Homo sapiens: one gene and its partners. The protein of the gene in region 3 purifies or fractionates together with the protein of the main gene of each other region. This does not show direct contact. Each region holds a gene or a part of one and is shown on either strand. Other genes may lie near its edges. The genes, in order: GBP1, POTEI and AFM.

The links.
Region 1: the proteins of AFM (region 3) and GBP1 purify together in Homo sapiens (affinity purification with mass spectrometry; 2 studies listed by BioGRID and IntAct, with this or other methods). This does not show direct contact.
Region 2: the proteins of AFM (region 3) and POTEI purify together in Homo sapiens (affinity purification with mass spectrometry; 2 studies listed by BioGRID and IntAct, with this or other methods). This does not show direct contact.

What each region holds. Positions count from the first base shown.
Region 1 is NC_000001.11:89,058,907-89,071,225, forward strand, and holds the start of GBP1 (guanylate-binding protein 1), read right to left. Parts: upstream 6,303-12,319; 5' UTR 6,254-6,302; intron 4,348-6,253; 5' UTR 4,329-4,347; coding exon 4,139-4,328; intron 1,419-4,138; coding exon 1,291-1,418; intron 521-1,290; coding exon 411-520; intron 138-410; coding exon 1-137.
Region 2 is NC_000002.12:130,457,040-130,467,343, reverse strand, and holds the end of POTEI (POTE ankyrin domain family member I), read left to right. Parts: intron 1-1,571; coding exon 1,572-1,692; intron 1,693-3,199; coding exon 3,200-4,528; 3' UTR 4,529-7,889; downstream 7,890-10,304.
Region 3 is NC_000004.12:73,495,773-73,506,459, reverse strand, and holds the end of AFM (afamin precursor), read right to left. Parts: intron 8,809-10,687; coding exon 8,711-8,808; intron 7,347-8,710; coding exon 7,214-7,346; intron 6,457-7,213; coding exon 6,233-6,456; intron 4,674-6,232; coding exon 4,541-4,673; intron 3,411-4,540; coding exon 3,390-3,410; 3' UTR 3,350-3,389; intron 2,585-3,349; 3' UTR 2,459-2,584; downstream 1-2,458. UniProt on the Homo sapiens protein: Functions as a carrier for hydrophobic molecules in body fluids. Essential for the solubility and activity of lipidated Wnt family members, including WNT1, WNT2B, WNT3, WNT3A, WNT5A, WNT7A, WNT7B, WNT8, WNT9A, WNT9B, WNT10A and WNT10B. Binds vitamin E.

The DNA of each region.
Region 1 (12,319 bases), on a different chromosome or scaffold from region 3:
AGTCCAGGGAGAAATCTCTCAGTGTCCACACAAAGTCTGGGAAGAAGCTCACAAAGTCAGCTGAATCCTCAACCTCATTCTCATTCTCATCAGGTGAGGATTTTGATCGGATTCTATGTGTCAGCTCTGTCACATAGCTGAGTAGCTAACTAAGGAAATGTGACAAAATGAACAGGGACCTCATCCCATGTTAGTTCAACACATACCCAAACCTTCCATTTTCCTTTGCTCCTAACCTAAGTGTCAGTGTCAGTTCTAAAGTGGATACATGGGATCTCTCCTCTGTACTTGCATTATTTTTTGTTTTCTCCTTTTGAGCTTGATTCATCAGGATTCACAGTCAGGCAGCTGGTGTATGAATACAGGTGTCCCCTCTGACCTTGGTGCTGTTCTGGGTCACAAAAGGATACTACAGTTGGTCCATAGCCTGCTGGTTGATGGTTCCTATGCTATTGTACACGAAGGTGCTGCTCAGGAGGACGGCCAGGGCGAAGATCCAGGAGTCATTCTGGTTGTCACCCTGGAAGTCAAGACACACTGGAGTCAGGAGCAAGTTTCATCATCGCAGCACTTTTCAGAGTAACAGTAGTAAAACTATGTTCATATGTTAGAGGGTTTTTTTTTCTTTTCTTTTTTTTTTTTTTTTTTAACACTAATGACCTATTAAAGGAAGACAAATACAAAAATTATTCTCAGTAGGATGTGGCTTTTGGGTAGTTTTTCGACGAGTGTTTTTGGGTTACCATGATTCTTACTAGGTCTTCTAATGATCATCAACAGATAATTGTAAAATTAAAATTCAAGGTTGGTGGGCATTTTAAGGCCTGAGTACAATGTAAATTTAAAATTTTCTCTTCTTTTTTTCAATAACAGAATTCACATATAAGATTGGTACTATTAGTTGCTATTTTATTGAATAATTAATATACACCTGTAATGTATTATCTTATTAAATATTCAAAATAATACTATATGGCCAACATAGGTCTTTTCCATACATTTTAAAGATTAGAATGCTGAGGCGAAAATAAGTCAATTTTCTCAGGCTACTGAATTAGTGACAGAATTTAAATTTAAATACAAAGTCACATGGCTTTAGCACCCAAATTCTTAACTAAAGTTCTGTGCAGGATAAGACTTATGACACTGGGATTATTTGTGCTCCCTTTATGCATCTGTGTTAACCCACACATATTACAGCCTGTAGTTAATAGTTAATAAACAATTAACCGCTGCATAAAATATTCAGAGAGGAGGGGCTTACTCCACAACTGGATCCTTGAGTCTCACCTTCTCTACATCTCCCAGACCCTCGGTGTCCAGCAGAACTAGGATGTGGCCTGGCTTCTTGGGGTGGGGCACACACCACATCCAGATTCCTTTAGTGTGAGACTGCACCGTGGAGCCCAGAGAGAAGCCTGCAAGGGAGAGAGGAGACCAGCGATGGGGATTTAGTAACAGGCAGTTCTGGCAATTGAAGGAAAAAGTAGTATATTTAAGGTTAAGAGAGAGAACTGAAACAACAATCAGTATTCACCTTACGTACTTACAATCAAAGAAATAGGAAATTTGAATATCCAATGCATGGAAACATTCAGGAGGCTTTCATGATAAAAATAATCAACAAAGTAGAAATAGAAAGACAGCACCTCAACATAATAAATGCCATGTATTAAAAACCCACAGCTAACTTCACATTTAATGATGAAACGTCATAGCTTTTCCTATAACATCATGAACAAGAAAAGGATGCCTACTTTTGTCAATTGCATTCCACAGAACACTGCAAGTCCTATCCAGAGTAATTAGACAAGAGAAGCATAAAGGAGGCATCCTAATTGGTAATGAAAAAGTAAAATTATCTCTGTCTGCTGATGATAGTATCTAATTTGTAGAAAACATTAACTATCCCACAAAAAACTATTAGAACTATTAAAACAATTCATCAAAGTTGCAGCATGCAAAGTCAATATGGAGAAATCAGTTGCTAGTGTAAAAAATAGAAAAGGAAATTTTGGAAACAATCCAATTTAACAGCATCAAAAGAATAAACTACTTAGGAATCAGCTTAACCAAGCAGGTGGAAGACTTGTAGAGTGAAAACTTCAAACACCCTTTAAAGAAATTATAGATGACATAAGTTATTAGAAAGACATCCTGTGTTTATGGATTGGAAGACTTAATATTCTTAAGATGTCACTACTACCCAAAGTGATGTACAGGTTTGATATAATCCCTACCAACATTCCAATTACTTTGTATAAATAGAAAAATCCACCATAAATTTCATATGAAATTTCCAGAGATCCCCTAATTATAAAAATAAAAAGGAAGAGCAAAGTTGGAGTCTCACAGTTTCTGAGTTGTGAAACGTATTACAAAACCATGTGTGGTACTGGTATAAAGACTGACATATAAACCAATAGAATAGAAAAGACAGCCCATGAATAAACTCTGATATATATGGTCAAATGATTTCCAGTATGGGTGTCAAGATCATTTAATGAAGAAAGGAGAGTCTCTTTAACAAATGATGTTGAGGAAATGATATATCTCCTTAAAAAGTTGGGCTATTACCTTATAACTTACAAATATGAACTCAAAATGGATCAAAGAACCAAACATTAGAGTTGAAACTATAAAAGTTGTAGAAGAAAATAAAGGGTAAAAGTTTTATAATATTGGATTTGGAAATTATTTTTTGAATAAGAAACCAAAACTATAGACAATAAAAGAAAAAATAGATTAGTGGGACTTCAGCAAAATTTAAAACTTTTGTGTATTAACGGACACTATCAACAGAGTTAAAAAAGGCAACACACGGAATGTAAGAAAATGGTTTCTAAACATGTATATGATAAGGGATTGATATCTAGAAAATATAAAAAAATTTACAAAGCAACAGAAATAAACAACCAGATTAATAAATGAACAATGGACTTGAATAGACATTCTCCCAAAGAAGATATACAAGTGGCCAATAAGCACGTGAAAAGATGCTCAACATCACTAGTCATTACGGAAATCAAAATCAAAACCACAACGAGATACTACTTAACTTCCATTCGTATGGCCACTATAAAAAAAAAAAACCACTGAAAATAAAAAATGTTGGTGAGGATGTAGAGAAATTAGAACCCTTGTGCATTTCTGTTGAGAATGTAAAACGGTACAGTCACTGTGGAAAATGGTATAGTGATTTCTTAAAAAAAGTTAACATGCAATGACTGCATGAGCCAGCAATTCCCCTTCTGGGTATATTCCCAAAAGAAGTGAAAGCAGGGACTTGAACAGATATTCAGACACCCATGTTCCTATTAGCATTATTTATAATAGACAAAAGGTGGAAGAAATCCAAGTGTCCATTGACAGATGAAGAGATAAACAAATTAGTATACACGTACAATTACTAAGCCTTAAAAAGGAAGAGTTTTGACACATGCTAACACACTGATGAACCTTGAAGACATATGAATTGAAATAAGCCAGTCATAAAAGGACAAATATTGAATGATTCCACTTATATAAGGTTTCTGTAGTAGTCAAATTCATAGAGATAGAATGTAGAATGATGGCAGGCAATGGGTTTATGTGGAGCTTTTGTTTAGTTAATACAGTTTCTGTTAGGCAAGATGAAAGATTTCTGGATATGGATGGAGGTGACAGCTGTATAACAATGTGAATTTCATTAATGCTACAGAGCTGTACACTTAAAAATGGTTACGAGGTTAAATTTTATTTTTTTTACAACAACAAAAAATAATATCCACTACAGATTGAAACATTTTTTCAACCTTAAAGATCACTGTGAACTCTGTTATTGCATAAAAATTGTAATAAACATTGTATAGTTTATTATAGTTATTATTATGTACATTAATTATTTTTATTACTGTCTTACTCCTTTTAGGAGAGGCATAATTTGTGCTTTTGAAATGGAAACTAAGGTATCATGGGAATAATTAATGAATTGATTCTTATCCCCTAGAACAGCGTGAAGATAAGGAGCCCGACTGTGAATGGAAAGTTAGCTTTCAGTATTCATCCTCATCTCTTTCTCTCCTCACATCTTCATAATGGAGGCTGACTGTGTAGATGGACAGAAGGGACTTGGCAGAGCTTTGCTCATGCCACTCACCCTTTTTCTTTCCAGCCAGCTTGTTCATCAGGTAGGATTTGCCTGTGCGGTAGAGGCCCACAATTGCCACCACCACCATAGGCTGTGTAATGGCAGAAAGGATCTTCAGAGCTTCTGGATTCGCCATCAGTCGCCCATTAGTGTTCTCAATGAGGCACATTGGGCCTGTCATGTGGATCTCTGATGCCATGTCCAGGCTGTTCCCTTGTCTGCAAGAGAAGAGGTGAAATACATGAGAATTTCTAGTGTTTTGCAATTATAAGGGAGAATCATAAGATTCCCCAGTATGGCCAAAAGTTTTGTGTGTGACAGCAAAAGAGATGAGGCAAAATCTGTATCATTTGAGAAAGTTATGGAAGTATTGTCAAAGTAGCTCATTATGAAAAATGTTAGCATGACAGTGACTTATCAACACTCAACTACTCTCACGACCCAAATATTTCATTTAGTTTATTGTGGAAAACTTTCTTTTTGGATTCTTATTAGATATTTTCACTAGTCAATTAATGGAAGATAGAATAGGATTTAGAGGATTTATTTGCATCCTGGCTGTATGTAAGGAATTCAATATTGATTCACTTATTAATTCTCACAGTGAATAAACATCCAACACAGTGAATCAGTATTCATAGTTTGATGTTTACCCTTAGAAAAATTTCCAAAGATTTTTAAATGTGTTCCTTCCTCCATCTTCAAATGATTATGCTTATTTCACTGCAATGAGGATTGACAAAGCTTCTCACATTGCCATTCTGGAAGTGGTAACAATGTAACATACTTTTGCAAATTTTATAAAACTATACAACCATGTGAAACACATGGCTAGGGAACCTTCCAAGGGCTCCTAAGGGTCATGTCCAAGAGAAGGGCCCTGAAACTTAAGCTTCATTAGAGTCACGATAAGATAGCTTCTAAGTCACTGAGGGTATGAATGCAAAATTGCAAATACTGAATGTTTCCTCCAGATAATAAGGATTAAAAGATCAAGAGGCAGATAAAGAGAGCTACCTAGGAAGTTGTTCAAATAAAATATATTTCCAGCGATACAGCTTTAGGATTTCTGTTTTGTTCTGTTTTCCATTTGGTAGGGTAGGAGAAAGAGAAATAGAAAGAGGAGGAATAGTAGGAGTGGAGAGGAGGATAAGGGGCTGGGAATGTGTGTGTGTGTGTGTGTGTGTGTGTGTGTGTGTGTGTGTGAGAGAGAGAGAGAGAGAGAGAGAGAGAGAGAGAGGAGCTGTCAGACCAGAGGTGATGAATGAGGCTAGTGTCTTGACAAGGCATTCAGGGGAAGACTTTGCAGAAGGCAGGATCAAAGTAGTCTGAGTGCATGGAGAGGTTAAAGTAAGCAAAGATATTTTCTGTAGAGATGCATTACAGGAGAATTAAAGAGGAAACACTTTTGGCCCTGCTCTCTACTAAAAGAAGACAAAATTGGAAGCACTTCAGTGAAGCAGTGGGGTTGAATTTCACTTCTAAGGGACAGGGATCAGTGGGCACTAGGAAATTAGTGAGTCTGGACTATTTCTAAAGAAAGTAATCCATTCTGAAACAAAGTTCACAAGTGTAATAAAAAGTATACTGTTTTCATGAATCTTCATCTTTCAGGCTGAGTTTCAGTTTTTTCTTTGTCTTTAACCGTGTCAGTGGGCTGCTTACTCTGCTTCTCATTTGCTGTTCTTTCCTTCCATGAAAAGAACCCGTTTGTAACTCTTCCATTTCTTAGCTGCATAGAAGCAGGATTCAGTCCATCACTGACGATGGAAATGTAATCATATCCCTAGTCAACATAGATAATGTCAACAAAGAGAAAGACTATCCTAGTACATTTCAAATGCTCAGTTTAGCCCCTGTCTACTGGTGCCTAATTCAACACAAGCACTGTAGTGGCACTTAAGGCCATGCTGTCCCTGATAACACCAGGATTTCATCTGACCTGCGTCCCACTTCAGGCTCATCTGCAGCCTAATTTGGTTCTGATGATGTTTAAGAAAATGAACTGACCTTTATAAATTCCTTCCCATCCCTGCCACAACCTTATAGGTTCCATATCACTGAGCTGAGATCCTTTGGAGCTAGAGAGAAAGCTGCTTGATGAGAAGTAGTAAAAGTTCTTACCTGTTCTTTTTCTCCTTAGTTCACGAGCACTGGCTTCTAGCACTTCTGTGTCTCTCACTGGATCCCTGGACTAATATTTCACTGTTCCGAAGTTGTAGGGCTGGGATTTCCTCATTGATGAAATATTTAGAAGCTAAGCAGATTTGTAATGGATTTAGAGTAATATGAAACTGAAAGTACTTCGTTCAAATCACTGACTCCACTACCATAAATGGAATTAGTGGAGTGTGCCAGTGGGAGGGTTTAAAGATTTCTCAACCAGAAGCTTCAAATTTTTTTTGTTGTTGTTGGAAATCTTAGAGACCATTTGTTGTCTAACAAAATGCCCATTAGGTTTTGAATACAATGATACATGTCTCATGGATTGAGTCAATTTGAGAAACCTAGAATGAGGAGGCATCATGTTAATTTTCAGCTACAATTTCCTAAAATAATAGACACACTCTCAATGGAGCTGCCTATTCTTTGAGAGGTGCAGTACATAAGGAAAGGACATGTTTAACACACTCATGAACACCTAACCCCTGGCACTTAATGCCCAGCACACAGCCAGGAGGGGGCTCCATGTGTTGTACTCATGTTCTAGGCTCAGTACTGATGGCTTTACATGAATCGCACAACTGAAAACTCATAATATTTCCTCATGGTTTTATAGAAACTGAGCACAGAAAGACTTTATTAGTTGTCTAAAATCATAACACTGTAACTAATCTGAACCCAAGCACTCATGATCCCATACCCTCTTCTTGAACCACTTCACTATGCTGCTTATTTACTAAGTGAAAAATTGTAGAAATATTTTATTTATAGGTTTTTTATTTTTAAATTTATTATAGTGTGATTTTATTTTTATAGATTGTTTTCTAAGAGCTGTTTGTGTTTTATGTCTAATTCAGTAATGACTTCTAGCATACAGAATAAGTGGCATTATCTCTATTTTACAGCAAAAGCAAATAAAATAGTAAAAAGCCTGAGTGAACATTTCATTTAAAAATATATTTATAGTGATGTGGTTTCACTTTGTTGCTTAGGTTGGTCTTGAACTCCTTCCTTCAAATGATCCCCCTGCCTCGGCCTCCCAAATTGCTGGGATTATAGGCATGAGCCACCAGACCCAACCTTGTGTGAGCATTTCTTTTTTTTTCTTTTTCTTTTTCTTTTTTTTTTTTTTTTTTTTTGAGATGGAGTTTCACTCTTGTTGCCCAGGCTGGAGTGCAGTGGCACGATCTCGGCTCACTGCAACCTCCGCCTCCTGGGTTCAATCAATTCTCCTGCCTCAGCCTCCCAAGTAGCTGGGACTACAGGCATGTACCACTATCCTGGCTAATTTTGTATTTTTAGTAGAGATGGGGTTTCTCCATGGTGGTCAGGCTGGTCTCGAACTCCCGACCTCAGATGATCCACCCACCTTGGCCTCCCAAAGTGCTGGGATTACAAGTGTGAGCCACCAGGCCTGGCCAAGCATTTCTCACTTACACATTAAAATTATATATTAGATGTATATAAATTGCAGATACAGTGTCTTTTCTCATTCATACTTTGTAAAATAATTTTATCTAAACTCTTTCTATCATCCTTCCTTAACACTGTAGCTCCTTTATTATTAAAACTACTTTAAAGTCTTTTACTTTTTAGAGCATAACATTCTTACATCTGTCAAAATTATTTGAACCATTTAAAATCTCTGCAGATTGTCCTGGAAGTGTAGGGGTGGGTTGCCCCTCCACACCTGTGGGTGTTTCTCGTAAGGTGGAACGAGAGACTTAGGAAAGAAAAAGACACAGAGACAAAGTAGAGAGAAAGAAATAAGGGGAGCCGGGGAACCAGCGTTCAGCATATGGAGGATCCCGCCAGCCTCTGAGTTCCCTTAGTATTTATTGATCATTCGTGGGTGTTTCTCCGAGAGGGGGATGTGTCAGGGTCACAAGACAATTGTGGGGAGAGGGTCAGCAGACAAACACGTGAACAAAGGTCTTTGCATCATAGACAAGGTAAAGGATTAAGTGCTGTGCTTTTAGATACGCATACACATAAACATCTCAATGCTTTACAAAGCAGTATTGCTGCCCGCATGTCCCACCTCCAGCCTTAAGGTGGTTTTTCCCTATCTCAGTAGATGGAACATACAATCGGGTTTTATACCGAGACATTCCATTGCCCAGGGACGGGCAGGAGACAGATGCCTTCCTCTTGTCTCAACTGCAAGAGGCATGCCTTCCTCTTATACTAATCCTCCTCAGCACAGACCCTTTACGGGTGTCGGGCTGGGGGACGGTCAGGTCTTTCCCTTCCCACAAGGCCATATTTCAGACTATCACATGGGGGGAAACCTTGGACAATACCTGGCTTTCCTAGGCAGAGGTCCCTGAGGCCTTCCACAGTTTTTGTGTCCCTGGGTACTTGAGATTAGGGAGTGGTGATGACTCTTAAGGAGCGTGCTGCCTTCAAGCATCTGTTTAACAAAGCACATCTTGCACCGCCCTTAATCCATTTAACCCTGAGTTTGACACAGCACATGTTTCAGAGAGCACGGGGTTGGGGGTAAGGTCACAGAATCTCAAGGCAGAAGAATTTTTCTTAGTACATAACAAAATGGAGTCTCCCATGTCTACTTCTTTCTACACAGACACAGTGACAATCTGATCTCTCTTGCTTTTCCCCACAGGAAGCATACATCACAATGAAACATCTATTCAAGGAGAGCTCCTATAACTCCGGTAAGAATAACAAGAATCTGTGGCACTTGACCCTTGGGCCTCTTCATCCTCATTTTCAGTTCGGGTTGACAAAAGGTCCACTACTGGGGGCTATGGAAAGAAGGTGGGGCTGCCTCTTCTCTCACATTCTGAGCAGGGATGACATATCCTATCAGGAGTGCCAGTCCACCAGAATTTTTCATCCCCTCCAATAGTGAGTTGTAAAGACTAAATTTCTGGTGAGTGTGACCAGAAGTCAAGGGCTCCCAAACTTTCCCAGTCCCACTCATAGAGCAGAGGCTCCATAACTGCCCAACAGGTTCTCCTTGCCTGTTGCCTAGGTAGAGCTGATTTATCAAGACAGGGGAATTGCAGTAGAGAAAGCGTTTAATTCACGCAGAGCTGGCTGTATGGGATTCTCAAGTTTTATTATTACTCAAAAGATTCTCCCTGATAATGTGGGTATGGGGGTTTCTGAGGATAATTTGGTGGGTAGGAGGTTGGGGAGTGGGGAGTGCTGATTGGCTGGGTTAGGGATGAAATCACAGGGCATCAAAGTTGTCCTCTTGCATGAGTTGGTTCCTGGCTGGGGGCCACAAGACCAGATGAGCCAGTTTATTGACCTGGATGGCAATTGGAGAGGTCTGGAATCTTGTGGCCTCTAGCTGCATGACTCTCAGACCACAGTTTCTAATCTCATGGCTGATTTGTTAGTCTTGCAAAGTTAGTCTAGTTCTCAGGGAAGAAGGGGTTTTATTTTGGGAAAAGGCTGACTAAATTCCTTCCAATGTCAGTTTGGCCTATGCTCAGGGATGAACAAGGACAGCTTGGAGGTTAGAAGTAAGATAGAGTCAGGTCAGATCTCTTTCACATAATAATATTCTCAGTTATAATTTTTGCAAGAAGATTTCAGCTTTAGCTCAGGAATGGCAGAATGAGAAACCCTGGCCTGTCACCCTCACTCTGGTTCACTTGTAGGGTGGTTTTTCCGTGTTGGGAGGGGCAACTGGCAAAGAGCAGAAGCTACCACCTCTGCCCATTCGAAGGGGTCATGGCTCAGAGATATTTTCCAGAGAGAGAGAGGCAGTCCATAAAATCAGAGCTCCAAAGCTTTTCCCACAGAAACTGACTTTATTTGAAAAAGAGTGTGGGCCGGGGGGAGATTCAAGCCTGGAAACATAAATAAAATTTACTACTAGATGACTGACTTTACAAGAAATACTATTAATAAAAGAAGGTTTTCAGGCAGAAAGCAGATGACTCCAGATGGCAATACACATCCACATGGACAAACAAAGAGCACCAGTAAGATAATTATATAGTTATAAAAGACTGTATAAATGCATATTTCTTCTTATTTCTCTTTTTAACTAATTTTTAAAAGACAGTTGTATAAAGCAATATGTATATAATTGTGTTTCAGGCTCATAACATATAGAAACGTGATATACTTAAGAACAGGACAAGAGAGGACAGTAGGAGCGAAGCTGCATTGGAATAAAGAAATGACAGCAGATGTTAACTTGAACCCCCAGGAATACATTAAGAGAACCTGAAACTGTAAGTTAACATAACAAGCTCTATACATTTATACCTTCCCCTTCAGCTTCTTTAAAAGACATAAAATTATGTGAATTAATTATAACAATGTATTATATTGTTTGAACATATATTTAACGTATTTAATAGTATCAAAAAAGTGAGAAAACTAGTATTTTTAGATTTATAAGAGTAAAAATTTTCTCATTGGAATTGATTTAGCATAAATGTGATATACATTCTCATAAATTACATATATGATACACTCTAGAGAAATTAGTAAGAAAATATTAGAACTCAAATCAATAACCTAATCTTTTACCTTAAGACGCTGGTGAATGAAGAGCAAACTAAACCCAAAGCTAGCAGAAAGAAGAAAATAATAAAGAATTTTGGAAATAAAGAGTAGAAATTAATGAGATAGAGAATATAAGACAAAAGTAGAGAAAATCAATAAAATCAAAAGCTGTTCTTAGAAGAGATCAACAAAATTGGCAAAAAAAACCTGTTTTGTTAGACTGGCCAAAACAAAACAAAAAACCCAGCAGAAGAACAGGAGACTCAAATTACCAAAATCAAGAATGAAAAAGGGGACATTACTTCTGACCTTACAAAAATAAAAAAGATTTTAAGGTAATGCTATCAACAACTGTATGCCAACAAATTAAATTAGACATAATGGACAAATTCGTAGAAAGACTCAAACTACCAAAACTGCCCCAAATTGAAAGTGAAAGCAGGGACAAGCTCTTCATTTCTGGGAAATAGACTAGATATTAAGAAAACCACTCTTTTCTGTTTAGTGCAATGTGTTGGGGACAGTTTTTGTGCTTTTTGTTTTTATGTCAGACAGCTGGGAAAAAATATTTAGGGAATTTTTCATTTAGATGGTGGGGATGAGGAAGCATCATTTCCTCACTTTCGGTTCATTTGGTTTGCAGGCTATGGAATTCTTCTAGTAGATGGTCACAGATCAAATTAATTCACAGTTTAGTATTATTACATGATGCAATAATTATTGTATATATGCCTAGCAGTCTCAATATCAGCATCCAATGAACAGACTGAATTTCAGGTGTGGAATGTTTTGATAGTAAGCTTATTTTCACACAAAGAGCTCTATGCAGCTGCCCGTAGAGTGCATAGCAAGAGGGATTCAGTGATTCAGCTGGGGTCACTGAGTCTCATATCAAATGGATGCAAGACCTGCAAGCTAGAAAAACAACCATATGCATGTGTGTGTATAGAGAGCAAATACACTGCATGCACAGCACTGTACTAGGTGCTGAGAAGTGTATGAAGATGAATTAGACACAGGCACTGCCCTAAACTGGACTTACTCTAGTGGGTAAGATTGACTTGCACTCAAAGCATAAAAGCAAAGGCCTGGAGAGGAGTGGAAGAATGGAGCACTGAACACTGAAATATGTAGCCCAAGATTGCACATTGGAAGATTTCAAACTTTTATCCATGAAGAATTTCCTTTCATGTCACCCAAGATTGCACATTTTATGTAGCCCAAGATTGCACATTGGAAGATTTCAAACTTTTATCCGTGAAGAATTTCCTTTCATGTCACTTATGTGAAATGAGTTGAGTTTTAATTTTATAAAAAATGACCTGTCAGTAAAAAACAGACACGTAGACCAATGGAACAGAATAGAGAATTCAGAAATAAATTTACATATTTAAAGTCACCTTATTTTTGACACAAAGGCCAGCAATATACATTGGGGAATGTATGTTCATAATTGATGCTGGGAAATGTGGATATTAATGTGCTGTATGAAAAATCAATTCAAAATGGATTAAATATTTAAATGTAAGACCC
Region 2 (10,304 bases), on a different chromosome or scaffold from region 3:
CTGTTCTGTTCCATTGATCTATGTATCTGTTTTTATACGAGTACCACGCTGCTTCTGTTACTGTGGTCTTAGAGTATCATTTGAAGTCAGGTAATGTGATGCCAACATATTTGTTCCTTTTGCTTGGTATGTCTGTTGCTGTTCAGGCTCTTTTGTGGTTCTACATGAATGTCAGCATTTTAAAATAATTCTGTGAAGAATGACATTGGTACTTTGGTAGGTATTGTATAGAATGTGTAGACTGCTTTGGGCACTATGGTCATTTTCACTATATCAGTTCTTTCAGTCCATGAACATAGGATGTATTTTCATTTGTTTGTGTCATCTGTTATTTTCTTTGGTGGTGTTTTCCAGTTATCTTTATATAGATCACTCACTTTTTTCATTAAGTATATTCCTAGGTGCTTCACACTTTTTTGCAGCCACTGTAAAAGGGATTGGATTGTTGATATGAACTCTCAGCTTGGTTGTAGTTGGTGTATAGTGGTGCTACTGATTGGTATTCATTTATTTTGTAACCTCTGAGACTTTACTGAATTCATGTATCAAATCTAGGAGTGTTTTGTAGGAGTCTTTAGGGTTTTCTAGGTATAGGATAATATCATTGGTGAAGAGATAGTTTGACTTCCTCTTTTCCAATTTGGATGCCCTTTATTTCTCTTGCCCAATTGCTCTGCCTAGGACTTCCCAGTTTTATTTTTAATATGCATGAAATAAAAGTAAAATGGAAAGTGCTTAACGATGAGTTTATTTCACATCTCTCTCTCATACACAGATAAAATTATTTCAAAGTCCTATGTTAAAAACATATTATACCCTGTCTTGTTCTAAAAGGAATTTCTAAGTTGTTTATAAAATACATAGGAATCAAGAATATAAGTAGAAAGTGTTTCCAAACAATAAACATAAAGAGTATGGGTTACAGGACACAGACCATTAGCAATCCCTGGCCTGTTAGGACCTGGGCCACACAGCAGGAGGTTCGAGGCAGGTGAGCAAGTGAAGCTCCATCTGTTTACAGCCACTCTCTGTCGCTCGCATTACCGCCCGAGCTCCTCCTCCTGTCAGATCAGCGGTGGCATTAGATTGTCCTGAGTGTGACCTGAACCCTGTTGTAAGTTGCTCATGCAGGGGGATATAGGTTGTTCACTCCTTATGAGAATCGAATGCCTTTCTGATCTGTCACCATCTTCCGTCACCCCCAAATGGGACCATCTAGTTGCAGGAAAACAAGCTCAGGGCTCCCTCTGATTCTACATTTTGGTGAGATATAATTATTTCATTATATATTAATAATAATAGAAATAAAGTGCACAATGAATGTAATATACTTGAATCATCCTGGAACCATCCCCCACCTCAGGTTCCTGGAAAAATTATCTTCCACAAAACCAGTCCCTGGTGCCAGCATGGTTGGGGACACCTGGTTAACAGATGTGAGACCCCTTTGCCTTGTCTTGGAATAATGTGCAGATATGCATTGTGTGAATGACATCTGATGGCGCCATCTTGCCCTGTACATCATTTTAGGGACAGCTCCAGTATTTCATGAAAATTAAAATTTCTTCTAGTGACGAACAAAATGATACTCAGAAGCAATTTTGTGAAGAACAGAACACTGGAATATTACACGATGAGATTCTGATTCATGAAGAAAAGCAGATAGAAGTGGTTGAAAAAATGAATTCTGAGGTATTTTCTTTAGTTATTTTCAAATGTTTTTATATGTGTGTATATTTTAAAGAACTGTATTTTGGAAATATAAAGGATTTTTAAGTCATATATATGTGTGTATATATTCTATATATCCTTTGTCATATATCTATATACGTACGTATAGGATAAAGCCATGTTCTTAATTCACCTTCATTTGCCTGCAACAGTTGAGTAGTGACTTGCACAATGGCCTCAATCCAAAGGAGAAGTATTTGATGTTTTTCATAAGAATTGACGATCTTTCCACATCAGAAATAAGTTTTGCTACTGAAAACAGATTTTCTCATTTTTGGACATTAGTTTTTTAAAAAATGTTAATAGAGAAGTCAATTGATTATTTTTACTGATAAGAAAGTAGGAAATGTATAGCTGGGTCAGAGGCCACATTGTGGATACCATTATCCTTACTTTTGCAGAGAGGAACAGTTTGCTCCAAGTAGTTTCTCATTTCAGTGTAAAGAGGTTTGAAAACAATGACATGCCATGATACACATTTAGTAATAATTTATTGATAAGTATTTTGTTTCTGGAGAAATAGTTCAGTATATTTCCCCTATTTCACCATTACTACTGTTTCAAACATTATAAAGAGGAAATAAAAGTTACCGCAATGGCAAATAATCTCATGATTTCTAAGAAAATCTCTATAAGTTGTATCTTATTTACCATTCATATTTTGAAACAAAAGGTTTCTTTTGTATTTATATATTTACACCACAGAAGTAAGTGTGGTTTTGTGGAGGATCACTAGAAGTAGCATCAGCAGACCTGGGGAAAATCCTGCATCTGTGTATATTTTTTGACCTCTCCTTTTAAGAATCGCGATCTTAAATGAGTTCAGTGTTATATGTAGAAGTGGAATGCCTAGATACAGATGTGTACAGTGTAGAAGGGTACAGTGCTTAGATTTGACAGTTATAAATAAATGTAATTCTTATAACTGAGTATAGAAATATTAGAAATGTAGAATATCGGTAAAATGTTCTTCAGTAAAAGAACTTTAAGAACTTTGAGAAATTGCTTCTGTCCAAATATATGCATAGCTAAGGCTCTTAGGATGGTGTGGTTGATAGGTTAGATATCAGAGTGTAAACCTAATCTTAAAAATGTAGTCAAATTGTTAATCTTATATTTTATGCCTCTGGGTTTTTTGTAACTCAGAAAAAGGCTTTTTTAATTCTGGGATTCTTAAAAATCCTCTAGTGATTTATTTTTCATCGTCTTTAAATAAATATTTAAACTTTTAGGAATTTAGGAGCAGATTCCTAAAAGTTTAAATATTTATTTAAAGGCGATGAAAAATAAATCACTGGAGGAATTTACACTCTTATTAGGTTTGAAGTTTTGTCCAATTTTTTTCCAGTTAAATATCCACTATGGGGATTCTTTCATTATACAAATACATGTTATTTTTGAATTTCAGAAGAAATAATGATATGTCAATCTATTGAGTGCTAACTAAAAGTTCTCTTTGTTTACTTAGCTTTCTCTTAGTTGTAAGAAAGAAAAAGACTTCTTGCATGAAAATAGTACGTTGCGGGAAGAAATTGCCATGCTAAGACTGGAGCTAGACACAATGAAACATCAGAGCCAGCTAAGAAAAAAGAAATATTTGGAGGATATTGAAAGTGTGAAAAAAAAGAATGATAATCTTTTAAAGGCTCTACAATTGAATGAGCTCACCATGGATGATGATACCGCCGTGCTCGTCATTGACAACGGCTCTGGCATGTGCAAGGCCGGCTTTGCGGGCGACGATGCCCCCCGGGCTGTCTTCCCTTCCATCGTGGGGCGCCCCAGGCAGCAGGGCATGATGGGGGGCATGCATCAGAAAGAGTCCTATGTGGGCAAGGAGGCCCAGAGCAAGAGAGGCATCCTGACCCTGAAGTACCCCATGGAACACGGCATCATCACCAACTGGGATGACATGGAGAAGATCTGGCACCACACCTTCTACAACGAGCTGCGTGTGGCCCCTGAGGAGCACCCCATCCTGCTGACCGAGGCCCCCCTGAACCCCAAGGCCAACCGCGAGAAGATGACCCAGATCATGTTTGAGACCTTCAACACCCCAGCCATGTACGTGGCCATCCAGGCCATGCTGTCCCTGTACACCTCTGGCCGTACTACTGGCATCGTGATGGACTCTGGTGACGGGGTCACCCACACTGTGCCCATCTATGATGGGAATGCCCTCCCCCATGCCACCCTGCGCCTAGACCTGGCTGGGCGGGAACTGACTGACTACCTCATGAAGATCCTCACCGAGCGTGGCTATAGGTTCACCACCATGGCCGAGCGGGAAATCGTGCGTGACATCAAAGAGAAGCTGTGCTATGTTGCCCTGGACTTCGAGCAGGAGATGGCCATGGCGGCCTCCAGCTCCTCCCTAGAGAAGAGCTACGAGCTGCCCGATGGCCAGGTCATCACCATCGGCAACGAGTGGTTCCGCTGCCCCGAGGCGCTCTTCCAGCCTTGCTTCCTGGGCATGGAATCCTGTGGCATCCATGAAACTACCTTCAACTCCATCATGAAGTCTGATGTGGACATCCGCAAAGACCTGTACACCAACACAGTGCTGTCTGGCGGCACCACCATGTACCCTGGCATGGCCCACAGAATGCAGAAGGAGATCGCTGCCCTGGCGCCTAGCATGTTGAAGATCAGGATCATTGCTCCTCCCAAGCGCAAGTACTCCGTGTGGGTCGGTGGCTCCATCCTGGCCTCGCTGTCCACCTTCCAGCAGATGTGGATCAGCAAGCAGGAGTATGATGAGTCAGGCCCCTCCATTGTCCACCGCAAATGCTTCTAGGTGGACTCTGACTTAGTTGCGTTACACCCTTTCTTGACAAAACCAAACTTCTCAGAAAACAACATGAGATTGGCATGGCTTTATTTGTTTTCTTGTTTCATTTTTTGTTTTGTTTTTTATTGGCTTGACTCAGGATTTAAAAACCGGAATGGTGAAGGTGACAGCAGTCGGTTGGAGGAAGCTTCCTCCAAAGTTCTACAATGTGGCCAAGGACTTTGATTGTACATTGTTCTTCTTTTCAATAGTCATTCCAAATATTGTGAGACGCATTGTTTCAGGAAGCCCCTTGCCCTGCTAAAAGCCACCCCACTTCTCTCTAAGGAGAATGGCCCAGTCCTCTCCCTAGTTCACACAGGGGAGGTGATAGCATTGCTTTTGTGCAGATTACATAATGCAAAATTTTTTGAATCTTCGCCTTAATACTTTTTAATTTTGTTTTATTTTGAATGATCAGCCTTCGTGGCCCCCCTCTTTTGTACCCCAACTTGGGGTGTATGAAGGCTTTTGGTCTCCCTGAGAGTGGCTGGAGGCAGCCAGGGCTTACCTGTACTCTGACTTGAGGAGAGTTGGATAAAAGTGCACACCTTAAAAAAAATTGAGGAAGCACAGTATTTCAGTACAGTGGACAGCTTAGCATGTTGACAACTGAGAATAAAATGCTCAGTTCTGAACTGGACAATGTAAGACACAACGAGGAAACACCGGAAATGGAAATTCAATTACGTCATTGTAGACTGGCTGCTGCTCTACATGATTGTGACCAAAGTCAGATAGCTGAAAGAGACTTCTTTCCAGAGAACAAGACATGAACAGGTTTATTTACAGAAGACAATGAATTCTCATTTATCTCACCTAAAAGAGAACAGATTCTTTCTCAACAAGTCTAACGTAGACAGTAAAATCAACAGGCTAAAAATTAAGCTCCATGAAACAAGATAAAACTCTGAGAGAAAAGACGGGGCAGGCCGCCATCTTTCCCGTTCAGGCAACTTAGTCATTCCAGCCTGCGGGCTTTGGAGAGTACAAACCGACGAGGGACAGAAGAGATCCCACAGCACAGCATAGCTGCTTTACCAAATCATGGCCAGACTGCTTCTGTAAGCAGGCCCCTGATCCTGTTCCATCTCACTGGACAGGACCTCCCAACTGGGGCCTCCAGCTACCCCCACCAGCATTCCTTGGCCAATGGAAATGTGAAATGTTCCTGGGACAGAGCTCCCGGAGAGGGGCAGGCCCCCACCTTTGCTCTTTCGGTGACTAGCCATTCTGGCCTGCGGGCTTTGGAGAGCCCAAGCTGACAAGGGGTGGAAGAGGTACCTCAGCACAGCACAGCCACGCTACCAAAACGTGGCCAGACTCTTGTTTACGTCAGTCCCTGACCACATTTCTAGTCAGTGGGTGAAGTCTTTCAACCAGGGTCTCTGGCTACCTTGACTGCTGTTCTCTGGCCGACAGAGGTCTCAGGCCTCCCTGAGTCAGAGCTCCCAGGGGGAGGACCAGATTGTCATCTTTGCTGTTGGGGCGACCCAGGCATTTCAGCCTTAGGGCTTCAGAGTGTCTGAGGCGGACCAGGGGCTGAAGTGAACCCCCAGCACAGCACAGCTGCTCTATAAAAACGTGGCCAGACTTTTCTTTTTGAAGCAAGTCCCTGTTCTTGTTCGTCCTGACTAGGTAAGACTTCTCAACTTGCCTCCAGCCACATCTTATAGGTGTGTTCAGATTGGCAACAGGTTCGTACCTCAGTGGTACAGAGCTTCCAGAGGAAGGGGCAGACTATCATCTTCCCTGGAAAATACAAGGCAATTAGGGACTGGAGGGGACCCCCAGCATACCACAGCAGCCCTACAGAAAAGTGGCCAGGCTCTCTACTTGATGGGCAGATCCTCCTGGCCTGGGTCTCTAGCCAGCCCACCACTGGAGCTATCAAGCCAGTAGCAACTCTGCAGTTCCTGGGACAGAGCTTCCAGGAGCAAATGAAATCCTTTCTGCCACTGCCTCTGCAGTGGAACTGCCCTTGCTGCCCTCAGAAGATGCAAGGGAGCAAAGACCCTAAGTGCCCTATCAACACCTCCAATAAGCTGCAGTTGACCCAAAGAACAAGCCAGTCCATCTCCCACGGGTACCACACACCCTCCACTACTCATCACCAGACAGGGAACCCTGGCTTGGGCCCACAGCACAGACCCTCCATCCTGGGCTGATTACACTAAGTGATTGCTAACTCACATGTCTCTGGGATGGAGCACCCAGGAAACAAGCAAAGTGGTGGAGCAGCAAGTCAGGTGATGTGGAGCCCAGAGGTCAGGGATGGCTGTCTCTCTAGGGTCCACTTGCCCTTGTGAGACACTTTATCCCAGCACTTTAGGAATACTGAGGTCATACCAGCCACATCTTATATGCAAGATTGCCCAGCAGAGATCAGGTCCGAGAGTTCCCTTTTTAAAAAAAGGAGACTTGCTTAATAAAAGAAGTCTAGCCACGTTTGTGTAGAGCGGCTGTGCTGTGCTGGGGGTTCACTTTTGAGAGAGTTCTCCTCTGAGACCTGATCTCTGGAGGCTGGGCAATCTTGCACTTGAGATGGGGCTGGTCTGATCTCAGCACTCCTTAGTCTGCTCGCCTCTCCCATGGCCCCAGCCTGGCCACACCTGCTTACGGGGCACTCTTAGATGCCCACACCATAGCTTCCGTGCTAGTGGACTGTACCATATCAGTGGAGAGCTGCAGCAAGGTGGCCCCTAGAGCCACGCACCAGCCTGCACATTGCCTCTCCATACGGCAGCCCTTTATTTGGAAACTTCCTAAATCACTTTGCTGTGTGTGTTTACACGGGTGGGTTTTGCTTTACTTGCCCTGAGAGCACACAGGAGTGCAGCACACACCCCAACCCACATCAACTGCCATTAAAGAAAAGAAATTTCAGCCCAGAATTTCATGTCCAGCAAAATTAAGCATCATAAGTGAAGGAGAAATAAGATCCTTTTCAGACAAGCAAGTGCTGAGGGAATTTGGTATCACCAGATCTACCTTACGAGAGCTCCTGAAGGAAGCACTAAATATGGAAAGAAAAGATCATCACCTGCTACTACAAAAACACACTGAAGTACACAGTCCAATGATGCTAAAAAGCAAGCACATATGTAAGTCTGCAAAATAACCAGCTGACAGCATGACGACAGGATAAAATCCACACATACCATTACTAACCTTAAATGTAAATGGGCTAAATGCTCCCATTGAAAGACACGGGGCAAGCTGGGTAAAGAACCAAGACCCACTGGAGTATGCCGTCTTCAAGCAACCCATCTCACGTGCAGTGCCATACATAGGCTCAAAATAAAGGAATGGAGAAAAATATTTCAAGCAAATGGAAAACAGAAAAAAGGTGTTGCACTCCCAGTTTCTGACAAAACAGACTCTACCAATAAAGATAAAAAAAGAGAAGGACATTACAAAGGTGGTCCTGACCTTTGATAAATCTCATTATTGCTTGATACCAACCTGGGCTATTTGTATTGCCCAAACCAATAGGATAATTTGCTGAGGTTGTGGAGCTTCTCCCCTTCACAGAGTCCCTGATCTCCGAAAATTTGGTTGAGATGTAAGGTTGATTTTGCTGTACAACTCCTTTTTTGAAGTTTTACTCATTTCCAACAAGGAAGGCAAGTTTTCCTGCTTCCATTGACAAAGGAGAGCAGGCACCTCCTTTCCTGAGTTTCAGCTTGCTTCTGACAGGGAAGGTGAGTGTAAGTTTTTCCAGCTTCTAAGATGGCAGAGAATGATCACCCAGTCTGAGCCTTATTTCCAGGTAAGTAGCTGAATTAGAGTTTTGTCTTAAAATTTTTCCTTAATGACTAAAATTTAAGATTACCCACCAGCTGCTTTTAATTCCTCCTTACCATTAGAACACTCAGTTAATCATATGAATTGTGCATTTGTTTGTTTTGCTTAACTCTTTTTGTTTATGTTTGGGGTTTTATTGTTGTTTCACTTTTCTCCCATCTCTTCCTGACTTGGTCAAATCCAAAGGAATGTTCCAAATTGTGGGGAGCAAGGCATCTGAATTGGCTAAAACTCCTGGGGCTGCAAAACAAAAACAAAAACAAAACAAAACAAAAAAACAACAAAAAAAAAAACCACAAAAAACAAAAAAAAATCCAGTTGGAAATTTTTTAAAACTTTTTTTTAATTTTTAAATTTTATTATTATACTTTAAGTTTTAGGGTACATGTGCACAATGTGCAGGTTTGTTACATATGTATACATGTGCCATGTTGGTGTGCTGCACCCATTAACTCGTCATTTAACATGAGGTATATCTCCTAATGCTATCCCTCCCTGCTCCCCCACCCCACAACAGTTCTCGGTGTGTTATGTTACCCTTCTGTGTCCACGTGTTCTCATTGTTCAGTTCCCACCTACGAGTGAGAACATGAGGTGTTTGGTTTTCTGTTCTTGTGTTTGTTTGCTGAGAATGATGATTTCCAGCTTCATCCATGTCCCTGCAAAGGACATGAACTCATCCTTTTTTATGGGTGCATAGCATTCCATAGTGTATATATGCCACATTATCCAGTCTATCATTGATGGGCGTTTGGGTTGCTTCCAAGTGTTTGCTGTTGTGAACTGTGCCGCAGTAAACATACGTGTGCATGTGTCTTTATATTAGAATGATTTATTATTTTTTCAGTATATACCCAGTAATGGGATTGCTGGGTTAAATGTATTTCTAGTTGTAGATCCTTGAGGAATTGTCACACTGTCTTCCACAATGGATGAACTAATTTATACTACCACCAAGAGTGTAAAAGCGTTCCTATTTCTCCACGTCCTCTCCAACATCTGTTGTTTCCTCATCTTTTAATGTTGGCCATTCTAAGTGGTGTGAGATTGTATCTCATTGTGGTTTTGATTTCCGTTTCTCTAATGACCAGTGATGATGTGGTTTGCTTCACATGTTCTTTAGCTGCATAAATGTCTTATTTGGGAAGTGTCTGTTCATATGTTTTGCCCATTTTTTGATGGGGTTGTTTTTTTTCTTGTAAATTTGTTTAAGTTCTTTGTAGATTCTGCATATTAGCCGTTTGCCAGATGGATAGATTGCAAAAATTTTCTCCCATTCTGTGGGTTGCCTGTTCACTCTGATGATAGTTTCTTTTGCTCTGCAGACACTCTTTAGCTTAATTAGGTTCCATTTGTCAATTTTGGCTTTTGTTGCCATTGCTTTTGGTGTTGTAGTGATGAAGTCTCTGCCCATGCCTATGTCCTGAATGGTATTGCCTAACACAAGGACATTTCTGTGCCTGAGTGCCATACCACCCAAAGTGATTTATAGATTCAGTGCTATCCCCATCAAGCTACCATTGACTTTCTTCACAAAATTAGAAAAACTACTTTAAATTTCATATGGAACCAAAAAAGAGTCTACATAGCCAAGACAATCCTAAGCAAAAAGAACAAAGCTGGAGGCATCACAGTACCTGACTTCAAACTATTCTACAAGGCCACAGTAACGGAAACAGCATGGTACTGGTACCAAACCAGATATATAGACCAATGGAATAGAACAGAGGCCACAGAAATGGCACCACACATGTAAAACCACCACATCTTTGACAAAACTGACAAAGGTAAGCACTGGGGAAAGGATTGCCTATTTAATAAATGGTGTTAGGAAAACTGTCTAGCCATATGCAGCAAACTGAAACTGGGCCACTTCCTTACACTTTATACAAAAATTAACTTAAGAAGGATAAAAGAGTTAAATGTAAGACCTAAA
Region 3 (10,687 bases):
AGTAAAGGCAATGAGATAGGTTTTGTGATATCAATCAATAGACACCAGCACAGAATTGGCTCTAGAAGAAAATAAGCTCTTCAGGCTAGCCTTTAAGATAAAATATGGAAGGTATGCAAGTACAAGATGCAGTGATGATGTTTAATAAATACTATTTTCATAGAAAACTTAATTCTTGCCCAGGTCATAGAAATAGAGTTCAAAGAGGCCTTAGAAAGACCATGACTGGATGCCACCAAAAACCCAGGTGGTAGCTGCTCACACACATGCAGTCTTGGCATTGAGTATTGCAGCAGGAGGCTTATCACATGTATAAGCATCTCTAGTGTTAGAAAATTTTTTTCTGCATCAAACCAGATATGTTCTATTCATTGGTATGAGTTCTGTCCAAGTAATACAGAGTAAGACTAATTCATGCCCACTCCAAATCTCCTCCTTTTCAGGCAACTGTGTCTTTTGCAGAAGCCATTCTTCTCCCTCCTTTCCTGCTTTGATCAATGTGTGTTCTGGCATGGCAGTAGAGAAAGAGTTGTATGGCAGTTTCCATTGCCATGATAGAAACTTTATGATGGCGGCAAGTGCCTGGGTCCCTGATTTTGTATCTGCTTCTCTTAGCACAGTATTGAATACATAGCAGAATCCAGTATAAAATTAAGTTCACTAATTATGCTTTGTTTCACTTCCGTTTTCTAAATCTACTATCTATTGTTTAAGTAAAGCAATACTTCCTTCTTATCCTCATTGGTAAATGAGAGTGCTTGGAGAAAGTGGTTAGAGGACAAAATAACTTTATGACTTACACACCTGTTATCTGCTGGCCAATGTATTAAGTACTTTATATAGTAATTTAATTCTTTTCTCTAAAGCCTTTGTGACTTGATATTAGCCCATCCTACACAAAGAAATTGATGTCATAGAGTATAAGGAACTTATCTGGGGCTGTACAGTAAATTAATGGCAGTAGGGATATAAAGCACCCGCTGCCATCCCTTTCTCACTCTGCACCTTCAGCTTAGAGTGAGTGCCTGGACCCTGCACGTATGACATTGAAACGTGATTGCATGTTTACTGTCCCTCTCCCCTGCTTAGCAAGAAACAGGAACCAATTCTGTCTCATATTTGTATCCACAATGTCTGACACACAATAGAATTCTAATAAATACTTGTTGAATAAATCAATGAGAATCCCAAAGACTATGCTCTAAACACTCTACCAAAATAACTCTATGAATAGCCTCATGTATTATCTATTAAATGGCCAACATCTTCAAATGTAAACATTGGCATACAAAAATCTTCAAAGTTTAGAGAACCACCAGGAAAGCCAGGCCATGAGTCCATAACCAGTCTTCATTTCCTGAGTTACTTCTCCTTTGATATCAATATCAAGCATTTATATCACTAACACAACAGCAATTCTGGCTTGGAATGGAGGGCGAGAACCACCACTGTCATTGTTGCCTTGTACAATCATTCCACCTCTCTGAATAACAGATTTTGTAAGGCATGCAACATGGCCATACCTAAGAGGTAGTGTATGCAATGGTTAACAATATTGTTCCACAAAGCTGGAGGCATCACATTACCCAACTTCAAACTTCAAACCAAATACCGTGGGAGCTAAACATTGAGTACATGGACATAAAGACAGGAACGATAGATACTGGGGACTACTACAGAGGGGTGGGAGGGAGAGGGGTGTGGGTTGAAAAACTAACTACTGGGTACTATGCTCGCTACTTGGGTGATGAGATCCATACACCAAACCACAGCACCATGCAATATACACATGTAACAAACCTGTACATGAACCCCCTATATCTAAAATAAAAGTTGAAATTATAAAATATATAATATATATAAAATTCTGGAAGTATATATTATATTATATATTATATATTTTATAATATGTTACAGTAATGTAATATATTATACAGTATTATATATAATATATAACATTATTATTACATAATATATAATATATATGTTATATACATTTATATATAGTTCCAGAATTAGAGAACCTAAATTCAAACCCTGGTTCTGCCAATTACTAGTGATATCACACTGAACACATTAGTTTATCTCCCCAAGCCTTAGATTTCCTGTTTGTAAAATGTAAATGAAAATAATACCTACCCATAGAGTTATTAGATTAAATGAAATAATGCATGAAAACTAGCTAGAACAATGTTTGGTACATTGAAAACATTCAATGTCATCTACTAGTAGTAGCAGTAGTTGTAGCAGTAAAGTTTCATGCCCAAAATTCTCAGTTTTCTTTCTGGTAGTTTCAAGGACATCTTAGAGCACTGTGCCTACCCAGCTGCTATTCAGACTTCCATCTTTCATGGATAGGGAATGGTGCAGCCATGTGAGCAAAAGATGCTGATGGAATGAATGAATCATGATTGCTTGATTTTGTGATTAGGTTGATTTATGACATCGGTCTGAAAAATAACTTTACAAAATGTTGTGTTTATTGCTTGCTGCAATGTATTATTTCAGGTGACAGTTACAGAAAAATCCTTTTATTTTGTTCTCAGGAAATGCGATTCATCACCACACAGATAGGAAGCCTTCCCTGGAAAGAGAAGATAGTATTTCATGCATCAAAAAAACATGAAATGTTGAAAGTTGGGTGATAGAAAGTCGAGTATTTGAAAAAACTATTAGTGGTAACCGTGTTTTGTCCCTTGTAAATCCCAACCTACCTTCTGTTGAGGTCCAGGTCTCTCTTCACTGACACTGTATATAACTCCTATATCTACGCAACATTTTGTTGCTAAAGTTTGTGTTTCAGGTCTTACATAAGCCACAAAGGGGAGGGCATCTTTATATATCTTTTTGAAATCACAAACATATCGCTTTTTGTTCACGTAAATGCTGTAGCAATACCCTTGGTTTGTATGTGAATCATATCTCAGTAAAGCAATATTCTTAAAAGATTATTGGAAAGGGTCACTGAGGTCTGTCTGCCCACCTCAGTCCCCAGGGAGTTACCCCTCTTCTTTCTGTCAACATTCAGAGGTTCCATCATCCCTCCTTTGTGGTCCAGACAGCTGAATACATGAGTAGGAAGGCAGAGGACTTAAGCGCCTCTTGGTTATCTAGAAAACTGATTGAACAGCAAGAGAAGGGCAAGCACAAATGCAGCATTGCCACCCCATAAGGAGTGGCTGATACCCAGAAAAACACAGGAACAATATCGGGGTCTGTTAGCTACATGTGCATTTCTTGTTCATGTAGGATGAACCAGAAATAGACAAAGAAGCATGAGGGAGAAAAGGCAAGGAGATCAGATAAGCCACAAATACATTTGACATTTGAATGAGGCAGAGGGTATTACCTTTGGTGCTTTTTTCTTTACATATCTCCAGCAGCTGGCTTCAGTTGCCAATTTTTGGACTCTGAGGTGAGGGATGGAAATAAAAACACATAGGAAGAAAAATTTAAGACACTAGTTTAAATTTAGATAAGCATGTTTTCCTGAATTTTGAAGAAAATTAAATCATTCCCACGTTGTACAGGGAAACAGTAAACATTCTTTCTTCTAGTGAAAAAATAGACACCGAAAGGCTCTTTACAACTGCCAAAAATTCATCCTTTCCTTCACATGGCCCTAATGTACACACTCACTCAGATAAATGCTAGATATTGATTAATATCCTTTACTTAAAATTAGGTATATTTTTTAAAAACTAGTAATATGTACCCCAGAAAAATTTCCACAAACTAAGTGTCACTCAGAAAAGTAGATGGCTCACAACCAGAATGAATCACGTGTGTGAGTTTGTCTGCCTGTGAGTTTACATGAATTGTGAGTTTGGAGTGGAGTGAGTGTTCCTAGAAAAGAAACAGTGAGAAATAAAGTTGGAAAACAGTGAACAGGCATTTCCATGGAGCCATCCATTGGGGCTAACATTCACAGGTTGCTGAGGTTCAAACCAGAGCAAATGGCTACAGACTACCTTCACTGGAGCGAGGGCAAGCAAGGGACATTTCTCCCTTTTCTCCCTGACTACCCTTACCCTCCACTCCCTCATTATTCTCAACTGCAGGATGTTAGCACAAGGCCTGGGAAAGTGAGACAGCCACTCCTGAAAGACTTCACTTTCTAATACCCTTCCTGCTCTGCTCCATTTGGAGCTGTTTATGATTTCCTTTGCAAGTCGCTTTGACTCTGTCTTATTAAGATAATGAGTGGTTCAAAACCAAAAAATAAGAACCAAAGGTGTAATTCAGGGATAATTATTACCATCCTCATTTAAAGATAGTTAATTGCCATTCAGTTTAAGTTGCATGACTTACAAGACTGCTGGGGTTACAACCCAGGTCTTCCGACAGCTTTTTCTGTACTAAGGAGACACTGCTCAAAGTGTATTTCAGAGATGTCTACATATTAGTTGTGTAGCAATTGTGCTCTCAAATGTAGTCCTGGTAGACACTGCAGAGAGGAAGCAGTGTCCTGCAGGGTTCTGTTTTATTTTATTTGACCAGGAAAACCAGTTGAATTTCAGTAGAAAAGAAATAAAACTACCTCTTCATTAAAGCAGACTTCAGGACTCTCTGCTTTGCAGCACTTATCCACTACATTTGCGAAATTTGTAAACAAAGACTGCAGCTCTTCATCTGTGAGTTCATGCTTCAGCTTCACTAAGTTGACAAGAAACCTGTGGCCAAAAGATGTCAAATAAAATTAATTAACGCTTTCTTTCTGAAGCGTCTCTACTCCAAAATGCTTGTTACAGAATCACGTCTTGAGTCTCAGCTTGGGTGTGGGTAAAGAGTTGAAATATACCACTTTGAATGGGTCTTCTGAAACTTTCCTATTAAATTTAGAGAATGGTTTCCACAGTAACATTCTTTGAAGGGTTTTGTCACACACAAAATTATACAAAAAGTATTAACAAGGAGGAAGAGAGGGATGACGAGAAGTTGGCCAAGGAGTACAAAAATACAATTAGATAGCAGTAATAAGTTCTAGTATTCAGTAGTATAGTAGGAAAATTAAAGTTAACAGTAATTTATTGTATATTTCAAAATAGCTAGAAGAGGAGAATTGTAATGTTCCCAGTACAAAGAAAAGATAAATGTTTTAGATGATGGACATTCCAATTACCCTGACTTGATCATTACACATTTATGCAGTTATCAAAATATCACATGTACCCCCAAAATATGTACAACTATTATATGTCAATTAAAAATGATGTCAAAGGAGCAATTAAAAAAATAAGCTATCACAATTAAGTGTGACAACAGCCATAGACAATAATGATTTCCTTATTTTCTAGTAAATTCTAGAATTCCAGTATTCTAGTAACTTATAGAATTCCAAACTTCAGGGGGCAACCCATTGATGTCTTAAAAGTACATTTTAGAGTACATTTTTAGAGTAATTATTTTAAGTAATAAAATTTTAATGCACCAAAGAGGAAAATGTAATAAGTCCCGTATGCCCATCCTTCGATCTAAGAATTAACAAAAATTTGCATTTTCTCGCTTTCATTTTTAAAATGAAAACAGGATAGTTAAAAAGAATAAAATAGACCAGACTAGAATAGGATGGACTGGAAAATACAAGAGTGTATTGCACTGTGAATCTATGAATATTGCACATAATAAGAGTATTATTCTATTTAAAAATGAAAACATATATTAGGCCTTTATTATGCCAAGTATTATGGTATACATGACTACGTCTGATCTTTCCAGAAAATTCATGTCCAAAACAACCTCCATTTCCTCATATTTGGTAGCTGAATGTTGTCTCCACTACACATTAGGCAGACTCTGTCTAAATCCAAAAAACTAGGTCTAATTTCCTGGCATTTTAAAGCATTTATTGAGAAAATGAAAGTAAACTTCCTGGCCCTTTAGGCCTCTCCTTTGTAAACACTAAATGATATTCTCCGGGCATTCCCTCAAGGAAATGAAATTCATTATCAGCCTGCCTATGAGCCTTTTTGCTGGCTGCTGTAAACTTTCTAAAGGTAATGTTAGACTTGGACATTCCAAGTCTCTTTCAAATGAAAAGACAAGCTAGATATAAACAATGGCAAAAAAAAAATATGCACTTGTATTTTTCCATATAGAAGAGACTGGACAATTTGGTGGAAGGAACAGGATTGTGATATCAAAAAGACATATCCACTAGATAAACCTTCTCACTAATACATGGTGTGTCTTCAAACCAAAGAAAAAGAAGAATGGAAGAGATTATTTGTACCTGTCTGTCTTCCTCTGAAGCTCCTCATTCTGAGATTGACACATGTCTGCGTGAAAGGTAAATAAATCTTGAGAGAAAGGTGGAGGCACATATGTTTTATCAGCTTTCAAACTCTCAAAGCAGGGCCTTCTGAAGGCAAAGTTTGTTTTACAGCAGTGGTCCACAGCAGGGTTGATAGTTCGATTTTCATTTACTCCACATAACTCTCCAAAAACTAAATCTGCCTGTACCAACAAGAGTTGCAACTGAGATACGATCTTAAAACTTGAATGGAATTTCTAAAAATATGGTTAGATGAATACTTAGATCTTTCTAAGATCACTGTTAACCTCACTCATAAAACACATGCACTCATGACATATCCCTATATACAAGTAAAACTAGAAGCTGGGGTCCTAAATGGCATTATGACCAAAATCCAAGCCATAAGAATTTAGATGCCTACAAATTAATTTCTTGGTGGCATATAAACAAACTTTCAATTGCAAACAGACAGCTGCAAAAAGCCAACTGAAAGGGGCGATCAAACACTGTGGTACAGGGGTTTCTTCCCCTCCTGGCATCTGCCTCAAGGTACTCTCCACCCCAGCCCTAAAGAGATGTATTCAATGCCTGATTGCTGGATGAAGCAATGGGGCCAAGAGGAAGAATCTGTAACCTTACTTAAAATTATAAAGTTTCCTGTATCATTTTGAAACAATATTATGATTCCTAAATCATTTGTCCTAACAAATCCCTTCTAATACAATGAAGAAATAAGAAAGATAATTTGAAGTACTCTCCAAAAATATTGAAGACATTCTGTTTTACTTCTTAGGGTTTTCACAAAGTGAGCCAAAAGGAAAACTTGACAATTTTTGCTTAACAATATTAAAACAGTGAAGAAAGGAATATGGATAATCACGGTAAATCAATGAGTGCAAATATTCTTTTTTTTAAAAAAAAAAAAAAAGAGTAGTCTGGTACACAGGCCATGCTCACCAAATTATCAACACAGGCAAACTCTTCACTTAGCGTACAGCAAGTAGTGAAAGCTGTCACCATTTTCTCGCCAAGAGACACCAGTTCTTCAGTGGAGAGTTGGGGAGCTATCTTCGTGAGCCTGATGAGGTAACTGAAAGAACATTTGTCTGTTTGGTTCTGAATGAAAGCAGATACCCATTTTCCCTTGAATTACTGCTGAAGCCCAGACCCTTCAAGGCTAGCGACAACCAATATAGGTGCAACATGAACCTTAGCTCTCTCATAAAGTAGAGAAATATGTCTTTACTTCCTGTTTTCCTGCACCCTGCTTCCTATATCTATTTTAGCTTCCTTTCTAATTTCACGGTTGTCTCAGAAGCTCTTAGATTTGCCTCCCCGTGTTATCTTTAAGTATAGGAGCTCCTTGACAGCAAATACATTGGCTAGTATCTAAAATCTTGCTTAAAATAATTTACATCATTAGAAAATATTTTAAAGAAAGAATTTAATCAATATATGTTGTAAAAGGATAATCTGAGATGAAGAAAACTAAGATTTTTAATGAACTAAGTTTGAATTGTCAGCTAACAGCCAAATTGCAGAAATAGGAAAGTCAGATATTTTTAAACTGTGTTTTATTTTGATTTAAAGATGTTTAGTTTCAATAAATAATACATTAGCATGAGGCCAGGTGCAGTGGCTCACACCTGTAATCCCAGCAAAGTCCGAAGGGTTGGATTGCTTGAGCTCAGAAGTTCAAGACCAGCCTGTGCAACATGGCAAAACGCCATCTCTACCAAAAAATACAAACATCAGCCAGGGATGGTGGCTCACGTCTGTAGCCCTAGCTACTTGAGAGGCTGACGTGGGAGGATCACTGGAGCCTGTGAGGCAGAGATTGCAGTGAGCTGAGATCACACCACTGCACTCCAGCCTGGGTGACAGAGAGACCCTGTCTCAAAAATATGTAGTAATGATAATAATAACAATAATAATAATGATAATAAAATACATTGACATAATAATTGAAAAAAACCCAAACTGCATATTATTCACAAATGCTCACAAGAGCACTAAAAAGCTAAATATTAAAGTGTTAAACACATCCTGAGTTATTTCTATAAACTCAGGTAAGATAGCCGTAAGGCAAGGCAAGGCAAACTATCTCTTCCCCAAAGAAACTGTAATGACCTGAAATATGCAGTGTCCCACTTTGAAATGGGTGAGGATGCAGGGATTCTAGATTGGCAGTGAGAAAGCCAATGTCAAACAGAAACCAAAGCATTAGAGAATCAATGTCTCCAGAATCCTGTATTTCTTTTATTTTTAGCTTCATTTCTGATAAAAGATTAATGTGACAGTTCAATAGGCATTCTTGACTTTAAAAAAAAATTCTTCCAAGAGTTTATGAATCGGCCATAACTGAAAAACTTGACAGCTAACTTTTTTACGCTTCGAGGGATTATGTATTCAATTCTAGTGGCAAGTGTTAGCCCACTTGTGCAAACAACATACTGGTATTTCAAACCATCCTTCCCCAAATTCTGGAAATGTTTACATTCTTGTTGTACCATCTTGAGGCTTTTCTCAGTTGTCTCATTGAATTTGTCTTCCTGAAAATAAGAATAATCATGGTTACAAACATTTTATCTAAAATTTAACCATAAGCTTTACATCAATGTGTAGAATAGCATTTCTTATTTCTATGGTATTTTCAAATTCTCATTATTACACTAAATTCAGGGCACTTTTTACAAGCACGTGCAAGAACTTAATTTTTTAATTATGTATATAAAAATATATTTCTTGCTAAATTTAAAAGTCCAAATTTTTTTATTATCACCTTGTACATATTTCAGAGCCTTCCAAATTACAAAACAGAATTTAAATTGTATGTTGAAAATAATAACATTCAGTTGTCACTTTGAAGTGGCAAGAGCAGTTGTTATCTCCATTTTTAAGTAAAGGCAACTGGCCTTGTGAAATTAAGTGACTTACCCAGAATACCCCAGCTAGTAAGTGTTGTTACAGAACATTTTAAATCATGTTGCTCTTTTTGATTTTTTCATTGTTTAGATTTGGAACTTAAAACCTCCAACAGTTTTCTTCAAATATTTGATGGACTATCTCTCATGTGGCATAAAATTGGACATCTTCTGAGTGGCCACCAGACAGAGAACTAAACACCAGTGGATAGCTATTGTGGAGCAAATTGTATCTCCATGAAAAGAGAGAATTTTCTAGCGCTATGATTAATTTAAGGATCAGAAACAGACTACCTCATTAGGGACAGTTACAGAGCAGGGATCCAAGTCTTATTCCATTGCTCAAATTTGAGTGGGTATAAACTGGTGTTTGTGGCAAGTGAAAAAAAATGTTTTGCTAAAGCAAAAGTAGCACATATCAAAGGAAGGAGAAATAAATCAAAAAATGTCAAATTATTAATTTCTCTAATATGTATTCAGAAATACATATGAATTTATATGAAAAACACTAATTTCAACAGGAAAATGGGTAGTACACATGAACAGATTTTTCACAGAAAATGTGTAAATAGCTAAAATCATATGGAAAAAATTTAACAATTTAAAAATCAAATAAAGGTGTTTTAAAAACACAAACACTGTTATTTACATATAAATCTAGCAAAGTTAATTTCCATGTGCAATGTTGGTAAAAGTGACATTGAAATGAGCATTTCCAAGCACTGTTGTGGGGCCAGACACCAGAAACAACTTTCTTGACAGTAATTCAACAATTTGTGTTAAATGTTTTTTAAAGTTCATATATTTTGATCCAATAATTTTCCTTCTGATAATCCATCCTAAGAAAAAAGCCATAAATATTAATAAAGATAAATGGAAGGAGACGTTCATCTCAGGGTCACTTACAAAGTGAAAAACACCCTAAGCAAACATCCAAAATGTCAAACACACAGTAGGAAATCAGTTAAATAAATTAAATAATTATGATGGGATACCATCATTTAAAAAGAAGTTTATTTTCAAGTCTGTTTAATGACGTAAAAAGTTTTCTATACTAGACACAAGAAGAGTCAAGGACTAGCTTCCCTAGAGGGAACACAGCCCTTCTGACACCTGATGTTAGCCCCATGAGACTCATTTCAGGCTTCTGGCCTCTTGTGAGAGAATAAATTTTTGTTGGTTTAAGCCGCTCCCTTTGTGGCAACAGCAGGAAACCAAGGAAGCACAATTTATAACAACAACAACAAAAAAGTTTTCTATGATACCAAATAAAAAAACAGGTCCAAACATTTTCTAGGAATTATGCCAATCTTATTTTTAAAATACACGTATATATACGTATATGTACTGAAGAGTTGAACACAAATGTTAATTATAGCTATTTCCCAGTGGGAGAATCAGAAAAGGGTTCTTTGTAACCTTTGTTGCTTTCCTAATAATCAACAACAATCAATCATTACTTTTGAAACCATAAAGAATCCAATATGGCTTAATAAAATACAGAATA